Homo sapiens: one gene and its partner. The protein of the gene in region 2 interacts with the protein of the main gene of each other region in a pairwise test. Each region holds a gene or a part of one and is shown on either strand. Other genes may lie near its edges. The genes, in order: ZNF200 and PPARGC1B.

Evidence for each region.
Region 1: the proteins of PPARGC1B (region 2) and ZNF200 interact in a two-hybrid assay, tested with the Homo sapiens proteins (one large-scale study listed by BioGRID and IntAct).

The regions. Positions count from the first base shown.
Region 1 is NC_000016.10:3,228,523-3,232,340, forward strand, and holds part of ZNF200 (zinc finger protein 200), read right to left. Parts: intron 1-3,818. UniProt on the Homo sapiens protein: Localizes protein arginine N-methyltransferase PRMT3 to the nucleus.
Region 2 is NC_000005.10:149,824,024-149,827,841, reverse strand, and holds part of PPARGC1B (peroxisome proliferator-activated receptor gamma coactivator 1-beta), read right to left. Parts: intron 1,170-3,818; coding exon 957-1,169; intron 1-956. UniProt on the Homo sapiens protein: Plays a role of stimulator of transcription factors and nuclear receptors activities. Activates transcriptional activity of estrogen receptor alpha, nuclear respiratory factor 1 (NRF1) and glucocorticoid receptor in the presence of glucocorticoids.

The DNA of each region.
Region 1 (3,818 bases), on a different chromosome or scaffold from region 2:
CTTGCTCTGTCCCCTAGGCTGGAGTACAATGATGTGATCTCAGCTCACTGCAACCTCTGCCTCCCGGGTTCAAGTGATTCTCCTACCTCAGCCTCCAGAGTAACTGGGATTACAAGCACGCACCACCACACCCAGCTAACTTTTGTATATTTTTTTTTTAGTAGAGATGGGGTTTTGCTATGTTGGACAGGCTGGTCTCAAACTCCTGACCTCAGGTATCACCCGCCTTTGCCTCCCAAAGTGCTGGGATTACAGCCGTGAACCACTGTGCCCAGCATGGGGACTGGATTTCAACACGAGATTTGGAGGGGACAAATATCCAAACTATATCAGCAACCTTGCGTCAAAGGGGTAAAAACAAATTAAAATTGCATATTTTTTCTAGAAAACATTATACAGACCTTCATATTCATAGGTTCTGCATCTGAGGATTCAACCAACCAAGGATTGAAAATATTTGAGAGAAAAAAAAAGGATGGTTTTGTCTGTACATATTCAGTTTTTTTGTCATTCCCTAAACAATTTAGTATAACAACTATTTATGTAGCATTTACTTTGTATTAGGTATTATAATTGATCTAGAAATAAAATATATGGTAGGATATGTGTGGAGTATATGTAAATGCTACACCATTTTATATAATGAATTTGAGCATCCATGGATTTTGGTATCTGAGTGGGGGTCCTGGAACCAATCCCCCATGAATACCAAGGACAAGTGTATATCAGAATTTATGGTATAACCTAAAGTGATGCTCATAAGAGAGCTCATGGCTGTAAAAACATGTATTAATTTAGAAAAATGAGAATAATAAAGCCTCTGATTCAAAGTTAGAAAAACAATAGGATAAATTTAAAAGAATGAAGGTATTAATAAATACCAATTAGAAAGTAATGAGTTAAAAATAGAAAAAAACTAGTAAGATTTAAGCAAAAATAAACCAATTTCCATAGAGAAAATTGAAATTATCAAAAAAAGACTAGCCACCTACCCAAGAAAAGCACCAGCCTCAGACAGTTCCACAGAAAATTCTTCTAAACTTTTAAAAATTAAATAATTCAAATGCTAGGAAAATTTCCAGAGTATAGAAAAAGAAGGTTGGGAGGCCAAGGCGGGCAGATCACAAGGTCAGGAGATTGAGACCATCCTGGCTAACATGGTGAAACCCTGTCTCTACTAAAAATACAAAAAATCAGCCGGACAAGGTGGCAGGCACCTGTAGTCCCAGCTACTCGGGAGGCTGAGGCAGGAGAATGGCATGAACCGCAGGGGGCGGAGACTGCAGGAAGCCAAGATCGCACCACTGCACTCCAGCCTAGGTGACAGCGAGACTCCGTCTCAAAAAAAAAAAAGAAGGAAACTTCCAAATTCAAACAAGAGCGAAACTCTGTCTCAAAAAAATAAATAAATAAATAAAGACAGAGAAATCTGAGCCCCAGTGATGGAGGTGGGGCCTAGTCGGAGGTGTCTGCATCATGTGGGTAGATCGCTCATGAATGGCTTGATGCCACCTCAAAATAATAAGTGATTTCTCACTCTTAGTTCACTAACAATGTGGCTGTTTAAAAGAGCCTGGCACCTTCCTACTCTCTTTCTTCCTCTCTTGCCATGTGAAGTCTGCTCTCCTTCAACCATGAGTAGTTTCTTGAAGCCCTCACCAGAAGCAGACGCTGACGCCATGCTTCTTGTACAGCCTACAGAAAACTGTGAGCCAAATAAACCTCTTTTCTTTATAAATTACCCAGCCTCAGGTATTCTTTTATAGCAGCACAAAATGTACTAAGACAGTTGCTTAAGAGTTTTAAATTTTCCAGGTGGAAGGAACTTTAATTTACTGATCTTTATTATTAATTTCTAGTTGTACTGCATTGTGACAGATCCTACTTTATTTCTACTCCTTGGAATCTGAGTCTTTGTTTGTTGCCTAGTATTTAGTCAATTTTCTTCAATCTTGAAAAGGTGTATTCTCCTATCACAGCACACAGTAGCTATAATAAGAATTATCTTACTGAAAATCTGTTTAAGTGTTCTACGTTTTTCCTTATTTTTACGTGGTTCACTTGGCCAACACACACATTCTCTGTTTCCCTAGGTTATCAAGGACTGTTCTTTGATTCCTGCCACCACAATGTTCAATCCGTTATAGTTTTTCCTTTGCAAAAATTGGTTAAATGTTACTGTTTCAATTATCATCACCTATAAATTGATGGCTCCCCAATCCCTATATCCTCACATCTGAACTCCAATCCCCAATTTCCAAATATCTGGAGGATAATCTCATTTTATTTCCCATCATGGATTCAATCTCATCCAAAATCAATTCCACCTTCTTCACTACTCTGCCCCGGGTCCAAATCTTACCTCAGTCTTGCGATAGCTCATTATACCTATAAAAATTTCACACTGCTTATCGTTTGATGAATGACTTGTCTTACAAACCAAATTGGAAGATTACAAAAGGCAAGAATATAACATCTTCGTAACCTGATGAATACAATTCCAGAACCCAATCCTGCCTGAGGAAAAAACTAGTACATTTATGAAATGCTGGTAAATGACTAAGCTTAAGCCACCAGCTTCAGGGTACGGGTGGAGGAAGTGGGGAACAGAGGGTGAGGATTGGGTCTTAGGGGCCCTGAAGTGCATAGTCGAAGTGATCTTGGAGGCAATATATCCACTAACCAGTCACCCAAAATAAATGCCAGCTCTGCCCAAGACTCAGGAAAAACTCAGTGTTAATAAATCTGATCTTTTTATCCTTTTCTCTAAAATAAAGAAGATATCACATAGAGCAACCTGCGGGAAATTAACTACACTCATTACATACCAATACTTCTGACCATACGGTATAATTACAGCTAAGAGTTTGACAGTCATAATGGATTTCTGTCACCCCAGGCAACTTCTAAAACCTATTCTCTGTACAACTTCACCCTCAGAAACAAAAAGCCCTGAAGGCAAAGTAAAAAGTGTCCGGCACTCAGTAAAGACATTTGTGCGGGCCTCTGCCTCTAGGGTTGCAACATTTCTAGAGAAAAGGTAAAGCATCTCTAAGCAAATTATAGAGAGGCTGCTGCTTGATCAGTTCATACACAGCACTGGGGGACACTTGTCAACTATTACTGGGAAATGAGGACAAATAAAGAATGCCCCATTCACCAACCATACACGGAATTCATTGACAAAATTATGAGAAATGCATCTAGGAGACAGTACAGCCCTGGGCCATTACTGCAAATTCTGATGTCAGATTCCCTGAGTCCGAATCCCTGTTCCCCTACTTACAACTGTGTGAACTTTAGCAAATTTTGTAACCCCTCTCTGCCTCAGTTCTGTCACCTGTAAGGTGGCAGTAATTTCTATACCACTCAGTATTACTCTGAGAAGTACATGAGAGAATAAACACATGAAAAGCATTTGGACTAGTGCCTAGCATGTAACAGCATATAAGTGCTCATTAAGTGTTAAACATTACTTTCACCAATAGTGGAATATATTTTCACTTAGGCTAGTAGTCTTCACATCTATTGAACATCAAAAAGGGGAGGGGGATTACAAGAGTTAGTCATGTGTTCAATGAAAACATTCAAATATACCTGTTGAGAACAGAGTTCAGAAAATGGGTTCAGAACAGTTTCTATATCCACAGTTTCTATGTCTGCAGGTTTTCCCTACCTCTCCCCTCACTGCCCCCAAGATACAGGGAAAAATGGCCACCCACCCACAGCTGGAGTTCTGTGGCAAGGCTCTGCTACATTGAATAAAACAAAAGTAAAATAAAATGTGTGTGTGCACATAGGCTTACCAGGTGTGAATC
Region 2 (3,818 bases):
GGATTGAGAGCGACTGCTTCCAGTAACTTCTGAGTTCCAGACTCCTTTGAAAATCTGATAAAATCTGATGTTCTCCCTAGAAAGCTGCTATTCCATGTGCACATTTCCACATTCCGCACACGCTCACACCGCATTTAACTTCTGCTGGTGGAAGTGTAAACCAGTCCAACATCTTTGGAGGGCAATCTGCAAGTATCTGCTTAAACTGGAAAATCACAGATCCACAGACCCAGGAATTTCATTTTTAAGAATTTGTCCATTTACATGTCACAAAGGCCTGTATAAGAACAGTTACTGTGCCACTGCTTGTAATGAGGAAGGAGTTGAAACAACACAAATACCCAACAGGGGAACCAGTGAAACCCTACCAAGGAACATTACACAGCCAACACAAAGAATGAAACAGAGCTCTACGTGCTCATGTGGAAGAGCTTCCAAGACACACAGTTAACCGTGAAAGCAACGTGCAGAGCCCTAATGTAGACTCCCTTTTGTAGTAAAATCTTTTAAAAGGTAGAAGAGGAAAGTCACATAACAGATCAGTAACCATGGTTACCTCTGGGACAGGAAAAAGCAACAGAGAGAGGGCTAAGGAGGTTTTGCTTTTAACTGTCCACTTTTACTACCTGGATTTTTACCATGTGTGTGCAATCTTCAGGAAAATGTTTTGCATGTAATTTCAAGGATTTAACACGTAACTTGGTCAATCCCTAAAGTACCAAAGAGCATAGAGAATGCAGGTGAAGCCTCTGTCGTTAGTACCTCTGTCTAGGTGGGAAAGGTTAAGTCCAGGGGGGCCTCCCACCTTCGGCCCACGCTCTCTGCTGTGATCAATATTGCCAGTGATGCACGGAGTCCCCTGCGGGGCTGGAGCGGATTGCTCTGCACCCCATGCCCTGAACCAGAAACCTAATCCCAGGCTGCAACCATCACTTCTGCTGTAAGTAGGTTCTTACCAGTGAGAGCTCGTCCACCTCAGGGGCTGGGGCCGAGGGCTTCTCCGGGGCAGGGCTGGGGGGTGCAGATGAGGGGGCAGGCGAAGCTGAGGTGCATGATAGAGCGTCTCCACCATCCAGGGCTGGGAAGGCAGCCAGACCCACGTCATCTTCAGGGATGTCATCCAGGGTCTTGGTGAGCTCTGCCAGGAGGGCCTCATTCTCACTGTCAATCTGGAGTGAGGAGGGCGGGAGGGTCAGAAAGGCAGATGGGGAGATGGTTAGTCACCACCTTAGACTCAGTCTCCACGGTGGACACCAGCTCTGCCCAGCCAGCTGGCCCACCAACACCCTCCTGCCATACCCTCCCCTCTGCCCACCCAGCAGAGCTGCTCAGTATTCCTGGCATAGCAGATGCCCAATAAATGTGTTATTGACTCCAAGAATCCCAGAATTTTATGAACAGGCAGTAGATGACAATGGAAAGGGCCCTGCCTGGGAGTCCCACTCTGGGCTCTGCTGCTTATCACATACCTGGGCACAGGGCTGTCCACCTGAGTGACGCCTACCTCCCCCACCAAGGACAGAGGCTGGCCTACCACACTGGTAGCAGCAACCCGTTACAGCCCCTCAGACCCTGGGGTCCAGGCAGAGTGAAGGCCAGAAGCTCCAGGGTTCAACCATGACAATAATAACCACAGCAGTGACGAGGCAGCTATAATTTCTCTGCGGGTTCCCAGAGCTTACTCTCCTCATTCACTCCTGAGGAGGTAGCAACTATGGTGATTAGACACTCGGGCTCTGGAGCTGGGGCTGTACCCCAGGTCCCATACTTAGCACCTCTGGGCTCTCAGGCAAGTTAGCTTTCTCATCTATCAAGTGGGATAACACACAGCACACATTTCCTAAGGTTACTGCTGAGGACTAGATGAGTAAACTTAGGTAAGATGCTTAGAAAATGGTGCCTGGCACAAAATAAAAGCACTTGCTACTGTGATGACTGTAACTACTACCACTACCACTGCTAGTGCTGCTACTGTTACACGATTTCTGCCATGACGATGATGATGATGACAGTGGTGGCGGTGGTAGTATAACTGCCCCCTGCACTCTTTGCTCCCTTCCTTCCCCTTCCCGGTGGCTACTCTGTGCCTGGCTTCATGCTGGACGCTGGTGATAAACAGCACGTGGAGAATGACATGCCCCGCTCCCATGGAGCTTACCCTCCTGTGGAGGATGGGACGAAACTAACAAACAAACAAGATCATTTCAGAGCGTGAGAAAGGCTAGGAAGAAAATAAAAGGAAGCCATGATGGAGAAAAAGAATGTGGTGAGGACTTACAGGCTCTTGAGGGTGGTCCCAGATGCCTTCTCTGAGCAGCTGATACTTAAAGGTAGGCTTGAAAGACACCAGCCAGGTAAAGCGTTAAGGAGGGGAGACCCAGGAAGAGGGAAACCCCAATCAAAGGCCAGAGGCACAGCGCTTGGCTGAAGAGAGGAGTAGAAAGGCTCTGTCAGGCTCAGGGAGGCCTCACAGCAACCTCGCCCAGGGGCGCACGATTCTGATCTCCATTTTGCAGTTGAGGACACAGAGGCTCCTGGAGGCTCAGCAACTTGTCAGGGGTCACATAGCAAATAACGTCCAAAGCCAGGACTTGGACAGCAAGAGTGCCCCATGCACAGATGAACCATAAGGAGGGTCGGCGTGTGTTCCCCCAGCCCACAGGCCCCCACGCCCAGAGGCCTGGTGTGGAGAGCACGTGGCTTCTAGGTGAGGCACCGAGCGCCTCATTTAGTAAGGCCTGGTCCCCGGGCTGTTCTGGCAGAAGGCACATTCTGTCACATGATGCCTCCTCCGGCACTCTTTCCCATCCCAGGTCAGGCTGTTTATCCTTTCTGCAGGAAGTTCATCTGAAATACACGTCTCGTGACGGCCTTTTGGCTGCACTAAATCTGTTCCAGGCCTTACAGCCGGAGCAGCAGCTGAGTAGTTCGAAGGGGGAACACGGGGAGAGAACAAACGCGTTTGTAATTTTTAGAACAGAGCTAAGAATAAAAGAAAGGTCAAAAGAAGATTTTGGTTGGGCCTGACCCAGGCCCTGGGGATGGAGGCCCGAGGGTAGATCAGGGTCCGAGGACTCTGGCTTTAGAATGCAAGCGGGCTCATTGGCTGCCCCCACCCCCTACCCACAAGTCTCCTTCAACCCTCAGGCCAGACTCCCAACCCTGTCCAGCCCAGAACCATCTGTCCAGCTTGATGGAGAGTTAAGATCCTGGAACTTGGGCCTCAGCGACCACTCTTGGGGTTCTGCCATCAAAAGGGTGATCTTAGGCAAGTCGTTTCCCTCCTCTATGCCTTGCTCCTTTCCCTGTGAAATGGGAAGACATGATCCCTGGCCAGCCTTCCTCCCTGGGCTCCCAGAAGGCCAAGTCTGGAAGCAGTAATGAGAGTGCTTTGTAGAGTGCTTAGGTCCCTAAGCTCAATGCCTGGGACATGGGAGGCACCACGGCAGATTTACTTAATGAAAGAGTGAATGAACCAAACAATGAACAATGGCGGGAGGCTAAGTTCAGTGTCTCAAAGAGCAGATTCTAGAGGGAAGTCATTCAGAGATGACATCATCAGCACTGCACGAACTGAGAATTCTCACTCTTTCCCAGGGAGAGTACCAAGGGCCCAGAGATATTGTGAATTATCACAAATATCAGAGCCGGAAGGGCTCTCAGGAACCATGTAGTGAAGAGAGATTTCAAATGCGTGGCGCACACGCTACTGCTCCCCTGTATTGCTAACAGCTGCTTCCTTCCATGCCAGCATTTTCCCTGATGCAGGGCTTCAGGTGACAACTGCCAATCAATCACAGTTGGCACTCACAAGGAAA